4 separate regions of the Homo sapiens genome follow, and all the other regions are linked to region 1. Evidence: fine-mapped expression QTL. A gene starts in region 1. Each other region holds a variant in brackets. All regions are shown on one strand. Distances are from middle to middle.

The links.
Region 2: its variant is fine-mapped to the expression of OXSR1 in whole blood (TOPMed, PIP 0.98).
Region 3: its variant is fine-mapped to the expression of OXSR1 in esophagus muscle (GTEx, PIP 0.98).
Region 4: its variant is fine-mapped to the expression of OXSR1 in whole blood (TOPMed, PIP 0.96).

The regions. Positions count from the first base shown.
Region 1 is chr3:38,163,858-38,166,544 of GRCh38, reverse strand. It overlaps OXSR1 (oxidative stress responsive kinase 1), which reads right to left and starts at 1,008. Exons shown (of 18, transcript NM_005109.3): 1 at 599-1,008. The coding sequence starts at 668. LOC101928234 (a long non-coding RNA gene) reads left to right here and starts at 1,069. Exons shown (of 5, transcript XR_940733.2): 1 at 1,069-1,148. RefSeq lists silencers at 514-563, 614-1,003 and enhancers at 235-850, 1,244-1,343, 1,614-1,743, 1,894-1,973, 1,134-2,333.
Region 2 is chr3:38,088,511-38,091,197 of GRCh38, reverse strand. The region is part of intron 10 of DLEC1 (DLEC1 cilia and flagella associated protein); the gene reads right to left. Among named protein-coding and RNA genes, the nearest start is that of ACAA1, 47 kb to the left of the region's middle. The variant A/C (reference allele first, on the strand shown) is at 1,240.
Region 3 is chr3:38,287,970-38,290,656 of GRCh38, reverse strand. All of the region lies in intron 1 of SLC22A14 (solute carrier family 22 member 14), which reads right to left. Among named protein-coding and RNA genes, the nearest start is that of SLC22A14, 7.0 kb to the right of the region's middle. The variant T/G (reference allele first, on the strand shown) is at 1,080.
Region 4 is chr3:38,253,900-38,256,552 of GRCh38, reverse strand. It overlaps OXSR1 (oxidative stress responsive kinase 1), which reads right to left. Exons shown (of 18, transcript NM_005109.3): 18 at 1,069-2,653. Among named protein-coding and RNA genes, the nearest start is that of SLC22A13, 11 kb to the left of the region's middle. The variant C/T (reference allele first, on the strand shown) is at 1,227.

The sequences.
Region 1 (2,687 bases):
GTGGGATTACAGGCGTGAGCCACCACGCCCAGCCCTTCTTACTTCTTTTTGTCTTCTTATTTAATGTCTACCTCCCCGACTGGAAAGTCAGTTGGAAGGAGTCGTAAGTTGGGTCTCGGTTGCTCAGCGCGGTTCCTGCAGCTTCACCTGGAGGATCCCCAGTTCGCCCCAGCACGGATGGAGGAAAAACTTAAAGCTCCCTATCTATCCCACAATCCCAGAAATCGATGGCTGTGCCCACTTCAAGATCCCATTTCTCACACAGCCTCGGAAAGGCCTGTCCCACACCTGCACTTTCTTTCTCTACAAGACACATGGGCCGCTCCTGTCCACACATTTGAGAATCCTGTACACAAATCTCTCCTGAGCCCCCTCAAGCCTCACCCCACCCCACGCCACCTCACAGGCGCGCGCCTCAAAACCCCCTTCCCGTCTCACACGCGCTCCTCGACACAAGCGTCCTACAAGCCCCCAGCCCCACAAGCGCCCCACGAATTCCTATGAGGGCTGCGCTCCCCGAGCTCCCGCGGCTCCCCACGTTCCCGTGTCCCCCGCCTCCCAGCGCCGCGCCTCCCCCCTCCGCAGCGCCTGCTCTCACCGATCACCTCCTGCAGCTCGTAATCGTCCCTGTTGATGGACCAGGGCAGGGCGCTCGAGTCCTCGGACATGACGGCGGCAGCGGCTCGCGGTCCTCCCTCAAACTCGCTGACCTCGCTCGTCTCCTCGCCGCGCGTCTCCCCACCCCCAACAGCCGCCGCCGCCGCCGCCGCGCCCCCACCAATCGTCTCGGAACAGCCACGGGTCGGACGGCGCCGGGGCGCGGGGTCACCGCGCGGCAGAGCAGCGGGGGCTCAGAGCTCCGGCGGACCTCGCCTCCTGCTCCTCCGAGTCCGGCACTGCCCGGCCCAGCCCACGTCCTGTCCTCGGCCTCCGCAGCAGCAGCGACAGAAGCTTTGCCTGGGCCCAGCCCCTCTGTCCCGCCCTCCACCCCAGCCCCACGCACGGGCCAAACTTTCCCCTCTTCCTCCACCTGCCGACACGCAGCGCGCTGACGTCACTGCGCTGGTCACGCCCCACCTCGGGCCCGCCTCCGGCCGCCATCTCCAGTGTGGCTGGATGTAAAGTGAGCAAGCTAGAAACCCGAGAAGGTAGGAGTTCGCGGTGAAAGGGAAGAAGTGCTTAGGTAGAGGTTCATCGAAGGCATCGAAAAGCCGTAGGAGAGCCTCAAGTAGCACAGAGGCAGTAGCCACACTAAGCATGGCGACCAAAGGGCAGCAAAGTAGAAGGGGCAGAGCCACTTCTAGCGCCTGGGGCACGCTGCTGTCTCCGTCGTCGCATTCATTGGTTTGTTTGAGAAGGAATCAGAAAAGCAATGGGTGTGGGTAGACGTCAGTCATAAATTGGTCCCGCCTCCAGGCTCTTAGCGCGCTTCTCCGTGTTAGGGCTGCAGCCCTTCAAGAGCTCCGTTACCGCGCTCGTCTTACCACTTCCTCTGGAGTGACGTCACGGCGTAACCGTCACACCCTCGAGACGTGCGAAAGGCTCTACAGGGTGTGGAGAAACCCTGAGGGAGCGGCTGGGTGGGGTAGCCTTTGGGTGTGGACCACTGCCAACTAGGATAAAAGGCCTTGGGCCACTGGTCGGAGTGAAACTGGAAGTTTGCCTGGTGACATTTTTTTCAAGGCGGACGTTCTCTCTAACGCTTGTCGCGGCGCTGTCTCTCGCGGGTCCACCCTGCACTGGGCGGGTTCTGTCCATTCGCAGCTTTAGATCTGAAGCTCAAATAAGCACCTGCCTTGAGGGACTCGGGAGGTTGTCTTTCTTCCCCCCGGACAGGGCTTGGGGTATTAAACAAGTGAGATCGACCCACGGATTTGGGGGTTGTCTCACGGGCGTTGGCTTTTGTCGCCCCCACTGAACAGTTTTCTCAGTTTGACTACGTACGGCCGTTAGAGAAATTAGCGAGCTGAAGACTGAACACGCTTGGTAAATTGGATTTTAAAAAATAATGAGCATCCAACAGGGATAGGGCTAGGTGCGAAACTGTTCTAGGTTGGACACCTTTCAGTCCAACGGCAGTCTTTAAGGAAGAGACCTTAGGCCGGGTGCGGTGGCTCACGCCTGTAATCCCAACACTTTGGGAGGCGGAGGCGGGCGGACCACCTGAGGTCAGGAGTTCGAGACCATCCTGACCAACATGGTGAAACTCCCTCTCTACTAAAATACAGAAAAATCGCTGGGCGTGGTGGCTGGCGCCTGTAATCCCAGCTACTAGGGAGGCTGAAGCAGGAGGCGAAGGTTGCAGTGACCCGAGAGCATGCCACTGCACTCCAGTCTGGGCAACAGACGGAGACACCGTCTCAGAAAAAGGAAGAGACCTTCACCTAGGCCCAGCTGAGACGGAGCAGGGACCCCTTTTAGGGCCTGCAGGCCCTCAACCATGGAAATAAAGGAAAATCTTGAGTTACTTCAAGAGAAATTCCCGGCACTTAGCTAGCCTTGAAAAGTTAATGAACCCCTTGATAAGCAAGAGGGCAGTAATAACTTTAAACATTAGCCAAAGAAACTAAAATAACTGGATGTTTGGTTCCCTATAAAAACTAAAGATAACATCAACACATGTCCCTGAGTTGTTTTTTAGAAACCCAGACCCCCACCAAATGGATCTGCTGGCACATAGACCTCAG
Region 2 (2,687 bases), 75 kb after region 1:
CCCCTATTTTCACTTTTGTTGCCAGTGCTTTTGAGATCATATGCAAAAAATCATTGCCCAGACCAATGTCATACAGATTTCCACCATTTTCTTCTAGTAGTTTTACATTTTCAAGTCTTATATTTAAATCTTTAATCCATTTTATTAATAAGTTAATTTTTGTATATGGTGAGAGACACAGGTCTAGTTTCATTCTGTTAAATGCAATGATATTTTGTCTTGATTTTGTTCAAAATAATCTAGAAGAGCAGGGTGGGGAATGTCTGAGGGAAATGGAGGGGTATAGATGTAATAAGATTGGCCAAGGGTTGATAATTGTTGAAGATGAGTAATGAATACATGGATGATCATTATTCTCTCTATTTTTGTATATGTTTTTATATACAACGTCCATGAACAGTTTCTAAGTTTTATAATATACTGTATTGGCAAAGGTGTAAAGAAACAGACACCCTTACATACTGCTGTTGAAAGTATAAATTGGTACAATCCGCATGGTAAGGATTTTGGCAACATGCCTTACAATTATGAGGGCACAAAGCGCTGGATCAGCAAATCTACTTCAAGGACTGTATCCTGTGGGTAGACTCATCCTTGGACAGAGTGATGTATGTATAATTTATACATAATTTGTAGCCAGAGATCAGAAAAAAATCTTCAGGTCAATCAGCAGGAGACTGCTGAACTAAATTATGGTCCATTCACACAGTAGGATACTATGCAGTTACTAAAACATATGAGAATGATCTCTAAGATATAGAGTTAAGTAGAAAACACAAGGCAAAGAACAGAGTATAGAGTGGGCAACTTTGTGTGTGAAGAAAAAAATGGGGGTAAAAACATGTGCAGTTGCTTATTTGGGCATAGACTATCTCTGGAAGGGCATTCAGAAAACTGGCCAGGTATGGCCTCTGGATGGCTGAGGAACTGGGGTGAAAGGGAGCATTTCACTGTTTACCTGTTTACATCTTTTGAATGTTTTATTTTTATTTATTTATTTTTAGGACAGGGTTTCACTCTGTTGCCCAGGCTGGAGTACAGTGGCTCAATCACAGTTCACTGTAAACTCAAACTCCTGGCCTCAAGTGATCCTCCTATCTTGACCTCCCAAAGTGTTGAGATTATAGGTGTGAGCCACTACACCTGGCTCTTTTGAATTTATTTTTTACTTTAAAAATTGTCTATACAGACAGTATATCACTATGTTGCCCAGGCTGGTCTTTAACTCCCAGACTCAGC[A/C]GTTCTCTTGCTTTAGCCTCCCAAAGTGCTAGGAGTACAGACCTGAGCCACTGCACCCAGTCTCTCTTTTGAATTTTTAATCATGCAAATGTATTTCTTATTTGGAACTATGAATACATTTTGGAACAGACAAACCCCCAAACAATCAGTAAACAAAATACGCAAGAAATGCCAAGGGGAAAGCCTTCCCCAGCTCCCTCACTGCTCCCCTAAGAGTCCTGCTGCTACCCTCTTCCTTTACTTGGAGATCCCAGGAGGATGGGATGAGGGGGATGTCCAGGGCAGAGCAGCTCCAATTCCTTAAAGCTTCGATGAGCCTGTGACAAGTCCTGGACTACACCAAGAGAACAGAGAACCTGGCCTGTGTATGGGCCTTGTAGACCCAACCTGCCCCTCAGCAGTAGATGAGGCCTGACAAAGCCCCTGAACTGGCTCAGTCTCAATCCCAAGAACTAGTTTCTCATCAGGGATCAGATGAGCAGGGACATGAATAAGAGAGCCACATCCTAGGGCTGCAGAACCTACTGGGCACTTGAAACTAGAAAGCAGCTGATAAGAGGAAGCCCTTCCTGACAGCATGGCAGAGTCGCTGTGGCAGTTGAACTCCAACTTGGCTGCACACCAGCATTCCCTGGGGGACTTTAGAAGTCCGGCACCCAGGCCACAGCCCAGTCTAGTGAACTCAGAACCTCAGGGATAGGGCCTTGGTGTTGTTTCCAGGTCTCTCAGGTGATTGCAATGTGCAGCTGAGTTTAAGAATAAGGGCTGCTGGATCTCACTACCTGGTGATATGGCACAGGCCAAATCCACCCCCAGAAGCCAGACGGTTTTTGCTCCTGAATGTCAGGGGCCTCCCTCGGCAGGCTAGTGTGAAAGGCCAAGCATGTCTGTAGCAGCCCACACCCAGTCACATGAAGTGGAGTCAGACTCCTAGACCAGGAGTCGGGGAGAGTGGCAGTGTGCTGCAACAGGGACAGGAAGTATCACCATTTCTCATGGGCACCTCTGGGGACCAGCAAGCAGGTGTGATCAGCTGAAGGGGGCAGCAAAAGGGGCCAGTTAGGAAAGGAGACGCCCACAGCCAGGGGCAGACCACTGAGAGCTTCTGCAGAGGTTCAGGATGAGGCGTAACGGAGTTGGGCCTTGCTGACTATACAAACTGAGGATGAAGCAGGAAAGTGAGAACAAAGCCACAATAACCGCAATAATCAGGTACCAGATGATAGAGGGGCCTGGGGGAGGGAAGACCCAAGAGAGACTGAAGAACCAAGCGAAGATCTTGGAGGCAGCTTGGACATTGGTGGAGGTAGCTCCCAGACTAAAGGTGTGGACTAGCAAGGCTCAGGTTTGTGATGTGATGCTAGGGCTATCTGCATTTGCTTTGTGAAAATGCTCATAAGACAGTCAAATGACATCTGACATCACCCTACAGAATGCAAGAATATGCG
Region 3 (2,687 bases), 120 kb before region 1:
AGCTAACCAATGAAAATTACTTAAAATCCTTCACCAAACCTTTCACTTAGGCATTGATAGCACCCATCAGATGGCCAAATTATTGTTTACTGGACTAGGCCTTTTAAAAACTGTCAAGCAGATAGTCAGGGCCTGTAAAGTGTGCCAAAGAAATAATCCCCTACACTGCAGGCCATACATTTCAATCCCTGTCTCTTTAACCTCTTTGTTAAGTTTGTCTCTTCCAGAATCAAAGCTGTAAAACTACAAATCGATCTTCAAATGGAGCCCCAGATGCAGTCCATGACTAAGATCTACCACGGACCCCTGGACTGGCCTGCTAGCCCACGCTCCAATGTTGATGACATCGAAGGCGCCCCTCCCAAGGAAATCTCAACTGCATGACCCCTACTACGCCCCAATTCCGCAGGAAGCAGTTAGAGCAGTCATTGGCCAACCTCCCCAACAGCACTTGAGTTTTCCTGTTGAGAGGGAGAACTGAGAGACAGGACTAGCTGGATTTCCCAGGCCAACTAAGAATCCCTAAGCCTATCTGGGAAGGTGACCATATCCACCTTTAAACATAGGGCTTGCAACTTAGCTCACACCCGACTAATCAGATAGTAAGGAGAGCTCACTAAAATGCTAATTAGGCAAAAACAGGAGGTAAAGAAATAGCCAATCATCTATTGCCTGAGAGCACAGCAGGAGGGACAATGATCAGGATATAAACCCAGGCATTCAAGCCAGCAACAGCTACCCCCTTTGGGTCCCCTCCCTTTGTATGGGAGCTCTGTTTTCACTGTATAAAATCTTGCAATTGCACACTCTTCTGGTCCATATTTGTTACAGCTCAAGCTAAGTTTTCGCTTGCCGTCCACCACTGCTGTTTGTCGCTGTTGCAGACCCGCCGCTGACTTCCACCCCTCCGGATCTGGCAGGGTGTCTGCTCTGCTCCTGATCCAGTGAGGCGCCCATTGCCACTCCGGATCGGGCTAAAGGCTTGCCATTGTTCCCGCATGGCTAAGTGCCTGGGTTCATCCTAATCGAGCTGAACACTAGTAGCTGGGTTTCATGGTTCTCTTCCGTGACCCACAGCT[T/G]CTAATAGAGCTATAACATTCACCGCATGGCCCAAGATTCCATTCCTTAGAATCCTTGAGGCCAAGAACCCCAGGTCAGAGAACAAGAGGCTTGCTGCCATCTTGGAAGCAGCCCGCCACCATCTTGGGAGCTCTGGAAGCAAGGACCCCCTGGGTAACAACATGACAACGAATCACAGTGTGGGATCCTGGATTGGATCTCAGACTGGGAAAAGAATGTTAGTGGGAGAACTGGCCAAGTTCAAGTTAGGTCTATAGATTAGTTAATAGTATCATGTCAGTGTTAATTTTCTGGGTTAGATAAGTAAGATGCCAACATTAGGGGAATCTGGGTGTGGAAGGAATGGGAAGTCTGTGTTCATTTTTTTGCAATTTTTTTTTTTTTTTTTTTTTTTTTGTAGAGATAGAGTCACACTCTGTCACCCAGGTTGGATTGCAGTGGCACAATCATAGCTCACTGCAGCTGAACTCCCGGGCTTAGGTGTGCCTTCTGTCTCAGCCTTCAGAGAAGCTATGTCTATAGGTGTGTGCCACCATGCAGGGCTAATTTTTTTATTTTTTGTAGAGATCAGGTCTCACTTTGTTGCCCAGGATGGTCTTGAACTTCTGGCCTCGAGTGATCCTCCCATCTTGGTCTCCCAAAGTTCTGGGATTACTGGTATGAGCCACTGTGCCCAGTCTCACAACTTTTGTTAAAACCCTAAAATCATTTCAAACTAAGACGATTTTTAAAAACGGGAAACTTTAAAAGATACCATTTTTAATATTGAAATATAGATTAGGAACAATCTAACAAAATACATACAAGACACCCATTAGGATGACTATTATTAATTTTTTTAATCATTTCAAACTAACATGATTTTTTTAAATGGGAAACTTTAAAAGATACCATTTATAATATTGAAATATAGATTAGAAACAACCTAACAAAATATGTACAAGACACCCATTAGGATGACAATTATTAATTTTTTAAAAGAAAAGGAAACAAATATTGGTGAGGATGTGGAGAAATTCGAACCCTTTTGTATTGGAATGTAAAAGGGTGTAGCCACCATGGAAAACAGTATGATGGTCCCTAAAAAAATTAAAAATAGGAGTACCATTTGATCCAACAATCTAATTCTGGGTACATACACAAAAGAATTGAAAGCAGGAGCTCAAACAGATTTGTACACCCATGTTCACAGCAGCATTGTTCACAATAGACAAAAGGTGGAAGCAACACAAATGTCCATGGATGGATGAATGGATAAAGAAAGTGTGGTGTATACATACAATGGAATATAGATCAGCCTTAAAAATGAATAAAATTATAATACATGTTACAGTATGAATGAACCTTGAAAACATTCTGCTAAGTGAAATACCAAATCACAAAAGGACATGTATGATTACACTTATATGAGGTACCTAGTCAAATTCATAGACACAGAAAGTAGAATGGTGGTTACCAGGGACTGAGGGAGGAGGAAAAGGGGAGTTATTATGTAGTAGGTACAGAATTTCAGCTTGGGAAAATGAAATCGTTCCGGAGATGGATGGTAGTGAGGGTTGCACAATGATGTGAATTACTTAATGCCACTGAACTGTGCACTTAACAAT
Region 4 (2,653 bases), 90 kb before region 1:
TATGGACTTTGGGTGATAATAGTGTGTCAATGTACACTCAATTGTATCAAATGTACTACTCTAGTGGGGGATGTTGACAGTAGTGGAGGCTGTTTGTGGGTGGAGTTAGGAGGTGTGTGGGAACTCTGTAATTTCTACTCAATTTTATTGTGAAACTAAAACTGCTCTAAAAATTAAAGTCCATTAAAGAAAAAAAAAAAAACCTTGGGGTAGATGACCTGACCCAAAGGGGGAATCCCTGAATGGATGCACTGAGTATTGCTGCCAAACAAATAAAGCTAAGGAACCAAGCCTAGTGATACAACCTGATCTTGTCAGAAAGAATGGGCAAGTGGAAGCTCAATTTGCCCTTGACCCCTTCCCTTCCCTCCAGATATACCATGGTCACTTATGAGTAACAAGCACCTCCTTCCTATCCCCACAATAGTTTGATTCCACTTTTATAACTTGCTTATCTTGAAAGCAAACTCAACTAGCTGTAGGCCAAACAGTATTGTCAACTCCAAGGCTCCACAGCCCTGAGCTCTGAAATACCAGGACCCACAAGCAGTGTTATCATGGATCAAAAGCCACTGCTGTTGGGAAGGGCAGATGATGAGGGAAGATTCCTCCTGCAGTGGGAGGATAACAGGAATACAAAGGAGCCTAGAATCTTACATGTAACTTCACCATTGCAATATCAAAGCCAAGAAGAGATAAGTTCAGCCCTGTTCTGAACTTTCGAAAGAGACTCCCAAGGGCTTGAATCTGGCATCCTTCCTTGCCCAACAGCATAAGCAAAACCAAAGATTTAAAAAAGATCAAAAGATAATAAAAGGAGTTCCATATCCCATCCTATCCAATTCCTTGGGCTGATCTCATCCCTCCCTTTTAGGGTTGCAGTTTCCCCAACTATATAATGGCTTTAATGGTTCTAGATAATTTGTAGATCAACAGACACACTTTACAGTTTATATGTACTTTGGCTTCTATTCGCATGAACAATTAAAGTTGGTGGTGATTCCTTGACCCACAACCCACAGCTCTCCGCCAACGGCCACTAAAATAAAGCGTCCATACACCACTAAGGACAATTTACTCTTTATTGATTAAAAATGAAGAAAACATGCAGTAAAATACAAAGTCCAAAAAAAGGAGGAAAAAGTTGAATATTTTACATCTTCCATAACCTAGCATACATCATAAGGAGGAATCTCCACTTATTGGTACATCATTATTCTCTCCTC[C/T]AGATTATTAAATATTATCAGCTGGCTCTAGGATTTGGTTCAAAACTTAAGCAAAAACCCAACAAATCCTTTAGTCGTTTAGAAAGACCAAACATTTCACAAATAGCATTGGCACATATTACTTTGTGCTATAGTTAGTCCCTACTCCAGGGACAAGGGGATCCTGGGACCTAGTCAAAGAGGTGCACTCTGAATCAGCATTCCTAGAAAGGAGTACAGTCACTCACTAGGTTACGTGCTGTTCCACCTGGGCAGTTTCTGTTCATGTATTTTCTCAGTATCACTGCACAAGCCAGCAAAGGGAGTCTACCACACATCATGCAGAAGAAGTAACACTGTCCTGGGACATGGTGTCTGTCTTCTAATTCCTAGCAGGGCAAACAATGAACTGAAAAGAAGGAGAAACCCCAGCCCAATTCTATTTGCCATGACTGCCCCACTGCAGTTCACAGGTAATGATGGGCTAGAGAAAGTGAACAGGGGATGGGCTGCTGCTCACTCCCAGCTAGGCACCAGACCATCTCCACAAAGAATGCTAGAACAGAGTGATGCTGCCACCCCTTGGATTCATAAATAAGTAGATTTTGATGGGTTTGAAAAAAAAAAAACAAAACTCTAAGGTAAGCGGTAAGCCACTAGTCTTGTGCCAAAGAAGATGCTATCTCTTTTCTATACCTCATTCCTACCTCCCCATCCTTGTTCCTCTCCGTCCCCCCTCCACAAAAAAAGAAAAAGAAAAGCTAAGTATTTTTCTAGCAAGCTGGTCAATCTTCTTTTCTCCCTCCTGGCTCAGCAGGCTCCCTCCTTTTACCAAGACTGCTGGGACGTTGAACTCCGGTGTCTGATCATCTCACCTACTCTCCTCCTAACTCCCAACTGAAATCCATCTCCTCTCTTCCTCCCCAACATCCATCTCTTTCCCAACATGCCTTTGCACCTAGAGCAGGTGAAGAAAGCCCATGACTAAAACTAAAGACTCAGAATGAAACAAAAGGTGTGACAAGTTATTTGTGGGGAAGGTTTTCAGATATGTTCCAAGAGAAAATAAGGTAAAACAACCTTGTTCATCAGACCAACAGTGCTGGAAAGGGCTCGAGTGATTCTGTAAAGGGCAACTCTCCCCCTTTCCAGGGACCCACAGCCCATCTTTGTGTATCTTTTTAAGGCCAGATTGAGTATCCCACTCATATATAAAACTCGGTAGGGTTACTAGCAGTTAGACAAAGACTATGAAACGGTAGGAAAAAAGAAAAATCAACCTCACTGATTATTCACATATTGCATTATGAGTGCTCTTTTTTAAACCTAAAGAATAATTTATATTATTTCTGTAGAAAATCAAATGAACACTGTCTACTCATAAAACCTAAAGGTCACGGCACATGTGGTTTCACTTTCCATCTTGAGTTAGCTTCAGCACACAGAGA